Homo sapiens: one gene and its partners. The protein of the gene in region 1 interacts with the protein of each later gene in a biochemical or structural test. Each region holds a gene or a part of one and is shown on either strand. Other genes may lie near its edges.

Region 1 (5,811 bases):
GTATAGTTAGACATTGACAATTAGCATTCTTGGCAAATTTCAGAATTTTTAAAGACCTAATACTGTGATGCCATGTTGTTGCTAAAGGTCATTTACTTGAACAAAACCTTGGATGACTGAAAGACTTCTGTGGTGATTAGTCTTTGTTATTACTTTTGCTTGGGAACATGTTGTTTTTGTTTAGGTTTTTTGACAGGCAGAAAGCAGCATGCTAATTGAGCACTGGCTGTGGCAAAGCACTGTACTATCCTTCATTCTTTTGGAATAGTTTTTATCCTACAGGAGCTTAGGATACAATGTGAGAGACCAAATAGAAAATGAGCATTAATGTGGAATGTCTTGACTTCTCAAAATTTATTTTCAGATGAAATGCCTATCTTCAAGCTTGATTATAATTATTTCTATCATCTGCTTCATATAATTATTATTTCTGGTACTGACATTGTTCGACAAATATTTGATGAGGCTATGCCACCTCCTCTTTTGAAAAAAGAGCTTCTTATACACAAGAATGTGCTGGAATCCTACTACAACCATCTTTGGACCAATCATCCTTTGGGTGGATCATGGCATCTGCTTTATCCTCCTAACAAGGAGTTACCGCAATCCAAACAGTTTGACTTATGCCTCCTGTTAGCTCTTATAAAACATTTAAATGTGTTCCCTGCACCCAAAAAAGGATGGAATATGGAACCGCCATCTTCTGACATCTCTAAATCTGCAGACATCCTGAGACTGTGCAAATACAGGGATATCCTCCTTAGTGAGATTTTGATGAATGGTCTCACTGAGTCACAGTTCAATTCAATTTGGAAAAAAGTTTCAGATATTCTTCTGCGCCTTGGGATGATGCAAGAGGATATTGACAAAGTGAAGGAGAATCCCATTGAGAATATCTCCCTTGATTACCATCAGCTATCTGTCTACCTAGGCATACCAGTACCAGAAATCATACAGAGGATGTTATCCTGCTATCAACAAGGTACTAAATGATTATTTACTTCAGCCAATAAACTTCCATTGATTGAATGTCTGCTCTGTGCCAGGCACAGTGCAAAGGGCAAGAGATTCAGTGAGCTCATGGTTTTGGGAAAATGGACTCATCAGGAAGGTAATAGAAATTATAGTGCTAGAGATGTTTCCAGAATACCATGGGAAATCCTAGGCTAAAGAAGTCCAAAAAAGCTTTCTGGAGAGTATCATAGTTAAAGAACTATTAATGGTGTGCAGAAGTTAGCCAGGTGAAGCAGACTGAGAAGAATGTTTCAGAGGGAAACAAAAATAAAGGTATAGAAACATAAAAATATACTGCAGGCAACTAAAAAATGTTGGCTTCATTGAGATTAAAGTAGGGGAGAGTTCATAGAGTACATTCAAGAGGATTTTTTTGTCACATTAAGGAGTCTGCATTTTTCAGAAAGAAATTGTTGAAGACTTTTGAGTACAGTTTTATCACTTTAAGTGGAGTTTTATTCTCCAAAATTAATAAAGTTTAAAACCATGACATGTAAGTACTGTGTGGTTTCAAAGATGTTCGTTTAGACACAGTGTGGATGTATGTTTCTTCTACTTTCTAGCAGAATCTTGTTTAGTTTACAATTTTAGCAGCTATTCATTGGCTGTAGATAATTTTAAAAATCAGGTAACATTCATGCAAGTGTTTGTATTGGCCACTCCCAAACTTGTCTATTGATACGGAAAAGACTTCAGACCTCCTTTCCCACATCTCAGGATACCTTCTCAGCTATTCTTTTGGAAAGCAGAGTTCAAGGCATGACAACATCTCTGAAACCCTGCTGTGCTATTCAGGATGACTTCCTGGTCTCAAGTTATTTACAGCCTAATGAACAACTGATAACCACACTGATGCTATATAAACATACAACTGTAAAAGTTTCTAGTGAACTGGTCCAGATTTTCTTCAGAGATAATTGATGTGCCCAATTTCAGTCCTGGTATTTACTAAGGCTCTGGAATACCTTTGTTTTCTTGCATAATCTAAGAATGAAAGAGGAGGACACTGAGTTTGATATATAAGAAAGTCAGGCAAGAATTTTTGACTTATAAATTAGGGTTTTAAAAAATACATTTACTCTATTAGGATTTTAAATAATTCATGAGAATAGAGTATTTGAGAAAGAGTTTTGAGCACCCATTCAATTCAAAGCATTTTAAGCAGTTCTTACTCAAGTACACTGAAGAGCTTATTGGTCAAGTCCCTTTACTAGAGGCTTTCTTACCATCTTATATTTCTTTCCTCAGCTATTCTAGTTGCTTTTTATTTGGATATCTGATAATTTGATTAACATCCATCATCCCACTAAATCTCCATGAAGATTGTCTTTTTTTTTCTTCACCATTCAATCTCTAGAGCTTAACACAGCCTGATGTACATTGTAGGTGCTCAATAAATATTAATGGGCAAGGAGAGCAAGTGATGATCAGATAAATCAGATTGCTAAAAATAGGTCCCAACTTTCAGTGGAGGTTTGCTGTGTAATTAACTATTATTTCATGGCCTTAGATGGTAAACATAAATATTCGTTGCTTGGTTTAAAGTGCTTGTGTTCTAGGCTTTATCTGTGATACCACATTTTTGTTTACTTTTTTTTCTCTAATCATGGGTTTATAACCTTTATGTGATAATCTAAAGATTGTGCCTTGTCTAAACTGGATTGATGAGCAAAGCTGGTTATTTTTCCAGTTACTTACAGAATAAATTGGTGCAATATAAAAATATTCTGCCTTAATCCTAGCCAGACATTCATTTGTTGCGTTTGCAATTGTACATCTAAAATTTTTCTTTATGTATTATAGGAATTGCTCTACAGTCAATAACAGGCAGTCAGCGTAAGTATATTTAGAAATAAAATGTGTAAATGACTTTTTAACAAGGGATACCTATGAAATTTTTATTTGTTCAGATAAACTAAATGATAAACTATAATTGTGAAGAACTTGGGCCAGGCGCAGTGGCTCACGCCTATAATCCCTGTACTTTGGGAGGCTGAGGCAGGTGGATCACAAGGTCAGGAGATCGAGACCATCTTGGCCAACATGGTGAAACCCCGTCTCTACTAAAAATACAAAAATTAGCCAGGTGTGGTGGCGGGTGCCTGTAGTCCCAGCTACTCAAGAGGCTGAGGCAGGAAAATTGCTTGAACATGGAAGGCAGAGGTTGCAGTGAGCCAAGATCACGCCACTGCATTCCAGCCTGGGCGACAGAGCGAGATTCAGTCTCAAAAAAAAAGAACTTGGAAAATGATGTGATCAAATCACCACTGGTCTGGCTGAATCGAGAATGAGCTTTATTCTGCCTTTGGCTTAGTGCATGTGCTTCAGGGTTTTCCCAAGGATGATGTTCTAACGTTTTACTCACAAAAACTTCAGCAGGCAAAAATACCTTCCTGCTTTCTCTGTTTGGTGTTTAGCGTGTATAACTTTATTTAGTCTGTCTATTGTTTATAGCTATATACTTTTTTTGCCAGGTGATAAGTTGTAATTGTTTAATTTCCATTTTTGTGCTATTTTTTTTAAGTGTAATTAATATTATTCAATTAAAATTATACTTAAAAAAAACACCACCACAGATTTGTTTGGGATAAAATGCTGGACTCTCTGGAGACCAGTCAGACAAAGTCCACAAGTTTTGAGACTGAGTCTCTGGGGCAATATCAAGGAGCAAAGTCTCAAAGAAAAGGTCACATAATAGGGGGCTCACACCCCTCTTATGAAAAAGAAAACAGAAAAAATAGATCTTTTGTCTTCTTTTTCTTTATATTTCAGATATATGTGCTAAAATAATACTAGTTGCATTATTAATAGGATCAAGGTCAGGACATGCAAAAAGTTAGTATTTAGAGTCTACTTATGTTCTAGAGTATCTAATATCTAGAGTCTACCTAAGATTCCAGTAGGTAACATAGCACTCAGGTTCACACTGATTAGTTCCAGGCTGGTGTTTGTACATATTATTTGGTAACTGATAAATGAACATCACATTTTCATCGAGTAATTGAAAAGAGTAAGATATATTTTATTTCTGTTTTGTGAATGTTGCTTTTTTGGGCAAACATTATAACATTGATAAGAAGCTGAAATTGCTTTCATCTAGATTTTGAGAATTTTGTCTTTTATGTTTAGGTATTGAAATAGAAGAGTTACAGAATGAGGAAGAAGAACTAAGTCCACCTCTCATGGAGTACAATATAAATGTGAAATCACACCCTGAGATACAGTTTGCAGAAATTAATAAAGATGGGACCTCAATACCCAGTGAATCTTCAACAGAATCTCTTAAAGATCTCCAGGAAGTATAAGCTCTCATTAATATTTGAGTTAGAAGAACTTATTCTGGGCCTTTAATTTGTTGCATGTGCTGTACTTAAAGCATCCCAGATAATTTTAGCTTATATTTTCATAGTGTTTATACAGAGCTTGAATTGGAATGGTCCTTTCCTTCCTTGCCTCAGTACTTCCTTCCATAATCTTTCCTGCCATAACCATTTATTTTGCCACCATTTCTTAAACACTTATGTGGCAGGCATTATGCTAGACTGTAATATGTTTTTTTAATCCCAGTTGAAGTGGATGTGGGAAGGTATTAGAAAGTAGAAGAAAGTATAGTCTAAAATAGAGAGGAAAGAAAGGAAGAGAAAAGTGGGATATTTCAAAACCATTTGCGCAGAGGTAGAATGAAATTCGTCCAGAATGGAATCTCCGTATTTCTTTACAAATAAGTGGTAACAGTTATTATATAGTCACTAAATTATCCTTAGATCTTTCATCTTATAGGCATGAATATGTTGCTTTTTAAAAAGTGTCTTCCTCCTTTGTTACATCCATGTGTGTAAGTGAGCATCTGTGAACTTTTATCAGTAACCTACTTATTGACATTATGTGTTGTTCCTTTATTCATCAGTGATTATTTAAGGACAGAAGACTAGGATTAAAATAAAAATGATAAAAACAAAAATAATTGTTTCCATAGAATCTAGAAAGAAATACCTATAATATTAGAAAACAAAAGATCTCAGTGGTGAGAGGAAATATATTTTGCAAAATAACCCATTGGGCAATTTGAATTACATATTTAATAAATAATTTTTTACCTACTAGGTTAAGAGTAAACAAAGGAAAAAGAAGAAGACTAAGAATAAAAAGGTAAGAGACTATAATAGCATTATAATACTGATTATGAACACTTGAGTTAAATACATGAATTCATTGTTAGAACTTAAATTAGTTCAAGTAGACATATAGCACAAATGATTCAATAGCTTACTGAGTATATGATTATAGAGAAGTCTACATATGTTATATCCTGAATGATTTTGAAGTACGAAATACAATTTCATACTTCACGTCCTTAAATTGTAATTTATATATTTGCATATATAAATATAGACTGAATTAGTCACATGGAAATTTCATTAATTTCTACATACCACTTATTTTTAAAATGCGTACTCATTGTTTTAAGAACAGCTTTTTGTCATGTCTTTATTGATATGTTTAGAAGCAGCTTTCAAAACTTTAAGAAATCTTGATTTTTTTCTTTATGTCTGAGACTATGCCAAAGATGCAATAATGTGCACAAAAAGGTACAAATACAAACTTCTTGCGTTGCTGCTTCTTTGATTTTGTCAGTTGCAAAATGAACAAGTCAGTATCTAGCACAGTTTTACCAGTGAGTCTCTTAATTGCTAGGAAAACTATAAGGGAAAGCCACATGTCTTTTTTTAATCAAGCATATAGCTAACCACCATGTTATGCAACTTTGTGGTGAAAAAAATTGTTTTCTAGCCTGAA
Region 2 (2,381 bases), on another chromosome or scaffold:
CCCTGGGAGGACACCCACGGAGCTGGCACGAGCGCAGCAGGAGAGACGGACGGCAGCCTCCGGCGGGCGAAGGACCCGGCTTCAGATGCCCGCTGGCTGGCAATCAGGCAGAGCCTGGCCAACCGTGCCAGGCCCCCTTCCTCACTCCAGGTGTGGGTTCATTCTGCCTTCAGGCCGGAGTCTGTCACAAGGCTGGCTGGACAGTGGCCAGGTGAGCCAGGCCAGAGGCCGGCCCCACACCATCCACAGGAAGCTGCTCAGCTCACCAGACCCAAGCCCTGGGCAGGGGCCAGGCTCACAGCAAAGCGCGTTAGGGCAAGGGCGTGAGTTTTCGTCTGGGAAGTTCTAAAAAAAACCCACAGTGTGAGGGATTGTGTGTGCCTTAAATCAACAGCTCTATTCCAATTACATCACATCACAAAATGCCATGAATGGAATCGGAAGGCGCTCCACCACCTCCAACACCCTGGCAGAAGCAGCTGCTCTCTACAGCAAGAGCATTTTCCAGAACGGCATGAGAAGGAGAGACGCACGTCCCAGGGACAGGAGAGCGCGCTGAGACCTCCCAGCACGAGATGGGAGGGGAGCCCCCGCCCCGTCCTGGACCGCCAGGAACCGAAAACCCACATGCACCCAAGAACAGGTGTGGACGGGGCGGCACAGAAGTCCACGGGAGGGGGCGACACGGGTGCTCTTTCACGGGAATCTTGTTGGGACAGCATTCCTTGGGGAGCGCCGGGTCGGCGTGTCCAAAGAGCGGGGGCAAAACGGCATCGAGGCAGAGGCTCTATGGCTCCTCCCCCATCTGCAGCAGGGAGTTGATGGCGGCATCCTTGTTCCCTCGCTGGGCTTCCAGCACGGAGCGGATCACCTCCTGGTCCATGTTGGGGAACATGTCCTGGATGGCTTTCAGGTCCTCCTCGCTACAGCGGGGCTGGGCGTTCACGGCGGCCGGGGGCAGGGCCACGGGCACCATGCCGGGGCTACAGACAGCGGGCATCCCTGGAAGCAAAGATCAAGTTTGGTAAAAACGTCGGAAAGTTCCAGAAGTGCCACACTAGCTCCTGCTGAAGGAAGAAAACAACGCATCCCACCGGCCTCCCTGAGGAAGGGGCCACCTCGGGTCTCAGCAAACACCAGTCCCGCAAGACACCCTGGAAAGGCAAACCCCCAAACAGCAACCCCAGGCACAGCCACGGGGAAGGTGGGCAGGGCCCTCTGTGACGCCTCCTTCACTAACTCATCTTCCTTCCATATAAAAATCAAAGTTTGATCTTTCAAATCTCACCCGAGTCTGTTTTATAACTAGCAGGCTGGGGGTGGTGTTTTGATCCCTTCAGAACTCGTGAATTTGCACTGCACACGCTCGTCTTCACTGACCAGTGGGCTCACAGAGTCCTCTGCATCTGGGGACGGACTACACGGAATGTCACGCCCGCTGATCCAAACACTGCACGGTCTGAGCCTCTTCCTTTATCAGGCATTCTAGAAGATGCTTTTGCAGCTTGGCAAGTGTGTCACTAAACTGTGTGCCGGTGGGGAACAATCACCACAGGCACTGAAGACCTCAGCAAAGCTGCAGCCGATGCCCAGAATGACAACCCCACACACACATACAAACTACACCAAGAAAATGCTCACAAAACTCAAACAAGTGGGGCAGCAGGTGCGGTGTACAGTGGACCCTCAGTGCACTGGGGCCACCGTCCAGGGTTCCTGGCATCTCCACCCCACAGCTACGCAGGCCCCTCGCCCCATGTCTGATGCGGGAGGACACACTGAGATGCAATCTATCGAGCAGGAGACGCACGGCGGTTCAGCCACTGCAGCACACACACCCCTGAAGGCACCGTGTGGCCGGACTTAAGACTCGCCTCCCAGCCTGGTGGCCGCTCCCTAAAACCACGAGCAGCCCTGAGCACAGGCAGCGTGCGCGGGGCTCAGCGACCAGTGAGGCACAGAGCACAGGCAGCGTGCGCGGGGCTCGGCGACCAGCGAGGCACAGAGCTCCTCCTGCAGCAGCAGCTGCAGCAGTGCAAGGGTTCACTGCTCACCCGTTCATTCACCTTTAAAAGCACGAACCATCTCCCAGCTAGGATCACTGGAGCGCTAGAGCCCCAATCTTAGGATAGGACTTTTGTTCCTTTCTACACTTGGAGGATCCTAAAGGCAGCAGAAGCCACTTCAATCCTGGCCTGAACCAACACCAGCAACAAGACCTGCAGGGGTGTAAACGGAGCAGACAGGGCTTGCCACCAAGCCTCCTGCACCTGCTGCAAAGGCCAGGACTCCTCAGCAAGGAAGGCCACCGCTTCCCGGCTCCTTCTAGGCCAGGCCGACTCTTCCTCCACACCCACCCCTGCCTCCTCTGCTTCTCGGCT
Region 3 (3,500 bases), on another chromosome or scaffold:
TGGGTGTGCTGGCCTACATATTTACAAGCATAAGGGGAAAGTTCAGAACATATGCAGTCTACAGAAGAAATATTTCATCACTAAGATCAAGCCCTGCAGTGAATCTCTGCAGTCATCCCACTGGTTTTCATTTCTTCTCTCTCTCTCCCTTCTTTCCTTTAATTATTTTTATTTATTCCTGTGAACACCTGATTCAGGCTTGTTGTCGGGGTAAGATTATAATGCTATAGACCTGGAAAGGCTCTCATACCCTACTACACCTTGTTAAAAGCTATTTTTAAATGAAATCATTCACCTGTCATGTTTATAGCCTATTATATAAATTAATTTCTCACATTCTGAATATGTTACTTTGTGTAACCATTAAATGACCATTTATAGATTCACATATGAGGATTTCTGGTGTTTGATTGTAGCCTCCACTTTCAAGGTAATCAAATAGTCCCTACTCCCTTTGTTTTCAAACTTCAAATTGCTAGAAGAGTAAGGAAGAGAGGGAAGGAGAGGGAGAGAGAAAGGAAAGCAATGCAATGCAGTTGGATATTTTACCTCCAAGGCTGGAAAGAGGATTTATCTCCTTCTCCTACAGGAAGGTGGAAAGGTTTTCTTCCTTTTGTCTATCCAGATGATAAAGAGAGAATCAGACGGACTTAAATAACTCTATACAACTGAGAAACAGGGTCATTTCAGTATCTCAGAGTTTTGCAGACAGCAGCACCAGAATATAGTCCTTCCTAAGTAACTTTAATTTTGGGGGAAAATAATTAGCAAGACAGAAGTTACTTGGAATACTAAAAATCAAGAGATGATTTGAGAGGTCAGGGACCCCTCTTGGCCATATGGAACACTCAAAGTGAGGCACGCATACTCATAAAAGTGGATTAGATGTTGACTGGGTTTGGATGATAAGCACTTGGTCCCAATGAACTTCAAAAGTAGGAAGGCAATGGCCCCAATAAAGTAAACAGAGTGGCTGGTAAGCCTTCTCCCTGCTCATATACCCCCTCTTTCACTCTTATTTAGAGATTCATTATTCTGAGTTTTCTTTTCTCCCAAACTTTATAAACAAATGCACATGTACCAAAGGAGACAGTTTATTAAGGTGCCCACCACACAGCCTGGCCCCAAAATTCTTCTTATTATCAACATCTAATTATAATAGAACATGTTCAATACAAGAATGCCAAGTGAGTGGATAGCCCAACACTTTTTCCATCCCTCCTTTGGTGATTGGGATTCTTCTCGACACTGGTCAGCCCTGTAGTAAATCGATCCTTGACCCAAGAGTGCACGCCCAGGGAACGGCCATCCCACTTGCACTGGCTTTGTAGCAAGGAAGGTCTGGGTTTGCGTCCAAGTTCATCACTTACAATCTTTGAGATACTGGGCAATTTTTAACCTCTGAATTTCGATTTCTCTGTCTATAAATGATACCACAGGATTGTTGAGGGAATGGAATAATATGTACAAATGTCTGACCCACGTCAAAATAGCTCACAACTGGTCCAGTTAAAGAGTTAAATCTTCTTCCTACATGCTTATGACAACCAGCATGCAGAAGAACAACAAAATGGGCTTCCTAGTTTATCTAGGTTTCAGTTTTCTGTACCAGCATCTATTACTCCATCCTCATATTCCCAGAAAGGAGGAAATTACGACACCTTAAATGTGATACATCATATTTGGTCAATCAGGGGTGAAATTTTAAAATCACTCACTCGGGTTGCCCAAACCCATCTCTAGGTGGGAGTTGTGACTGAACAGGCATCGGTACCACTAGCTCTAGAATCTGCCCTGTTCTATCTTTTGAAATAAATTAAAAAAGAATTCTAAGACTCGATCGTAGAAGTTAATGATGGTGTCCTGACTGGGAGAAACGTGTAGCCCAAGGGTCTACTCATGACAAAATGGCTTTCTATTCTATTTCATGACAAAATGGCTTTACCAGTTTAAGACCTGGTAAAATAGGAAGTTGAAATAAACCTCAGCCCTTTAATAGTTAAGACCCCAACAAATAAACAGTGGTTTAGTGGCATGACAACTTGCCCCCTCTCAATCTGTACCGTGCTTCAGATAATTTGAGATGTCTATTTTGAGTGACCCTCCAGCACATGTGATTCTAGGTAAGTATTGGTGCTATTCTATATCAGTATTTTCTTGCTGACAGAGTCAGAGGAGCTGGCATAACCCTTCTGACAAAGTCCTAGCAAGGTAGGGTTCCTGAGCCTTTCTATAAATCCCGGCAAGCTCGCCAAACCCCCGGTTACTGACATTTCTGTAAAGCTGAAAAACATTCATGCATCTGGACAGCACCACTGTGGAACTACTCTGACAAATTGGATATTTTTCTGAAAACTACCACTGCCATTTCAAAGAAAGCCAGAAACACATGCTGTATTTCTTAAAGTATCTTCGTAAATATAACATAGAAATTTCAGGGCTGAGCCTGGAAAATAAGCATTTTCCTACTGTCAAGAACAAACTGAAGGTCTTGGCTGAACAAGACTTGCATATTATACCTGTTAACTTTCCAATTTCAAGAGAAAAAGCCCAAGGGTCTACTCAAAACATGATTAGCGTAAAACAGCGTTTTCTTATAGGAAAGAAAGAACAAAAGGAAAAGGAAAAGTTGTTTCACATGAAAATATTCTGGATACTTATTTTTTAAAAGTTGTTCCTAAAATTTTACAAGTGAAGTACTGAATATCAAATTCATATTTTGGAAAGAAAGAACACCAGCAATATAGTTCACACATTCTTTAGAGTAGCAACCAAGCCCGTAGGAACTCTAAAAGCGAGTTATGATTTCTTAAATGTTGCAGAAGTAAAAGTTTTCAAGAGGAACAAAAAAGGGGCGATGCTTAGTGTTAAACCTGATACTCTACTAAGCATATAGGTCTCCAAAGAGCTGACGAATGCCCATCACACGGTCCACAATAATGCTTTTGCCCAGGAGCTTCAGAGGATGAGAACTCAATGTGCAACTTCCCCCCATTTTTTTGTTTTTGTTGTTAAAGAGGCATATCTGATGAAGAAGGAAATCAGATTAGATTCACTCTTCACCAAGAAACAGAGCAACTCAATGGTGACAATATCAATTTTCCCCCATGTGGCTGAATTTTCCATTGCCTTTAAAAATGCTTAAGACTTTTTGTTCCCATATCAGCAGAAAAAGGCAAATCCCTTAATCAACCTAGTAGTATAAATGGCCAGTTAGGCAACGAGAGACTAAGAAAACAGTCTTCCTTTTGATTTTACACATGAATAGATGATGTGAATTAGTTTTCTGAAGATTATGTGAATTAGTTTAAATGACCTTAAAGGCAAGATGAAAGAATCTCCTTGAGAGTTGTATCCTCTTTGGAAGCAAAGTATTGTTTTGCCCCAAGCCCATCTCGCTCACTGAACATACCATTTGACTTAATTTACCATATACGCTTGTATTTTGGAATTTAAAAAAAATCAATGTACACATTTTAAATCATTATTAATGATTATTA

What was found.
Region 2: the proteins of DZIP3 (region 1) and TOLLIP form a complex in vitro, tested with the Homo sapiens proteins (one study listed by BioGRID).
Region 3: the proteins of DZIP3 (region 1) and RUNX1 form a complex in vitro, tested with the Homo sapiens proteins (one study listed by BioGRID).

Annotation. Positions count from the first base shown.
Region 1 is NC_000003.12:108,643,800-108,649,610, forward strand, and holds part of DZIP3 (E3 ubiquitin-protein ligase DZIP3), read left to right. Parts: intron 1-364; coding exon 365-982; intron 983-2,817; coding exon 2,818-2,850; intron 2,851-4,143; coding exon 4,144-4,313; coding exon of another isoform or gene 4,314-4,319; exon of another isoform or gene 4,320-5,118; coding exon 5,119-5,163; intron 5,164-5,811. UniProt on the Homo sapiens protein: E3 Ubiquitin ligase proteins mediate ubiquitination and subsequent proteasomal degradation of target proteins.
Region 2 is NC_000011.10:1,276,252-1,278,632, forward strand, and holds part of TOLLIP (toll-interacting protein), read right to left. Parts: intron 1,003-2,381; coding exon 788-1,002; 3' UTR 1-787. UniProt on the Homo sapiens protein: Component of the signaling pathway of IL-1 and Toll-like receptors. Inhibits cell activation by microbial products. Recruits IRAK1 to the IL-1 receptor complex. Inhibits IRAK1 phosphorylation and kinase activity.
Region 3 is NC_000021.9:34,829,303-34,832,802, forward strand, and holds part of RUNX1 (runt-related transcription factor 1), read right to left. Parts: intron 1-3,500.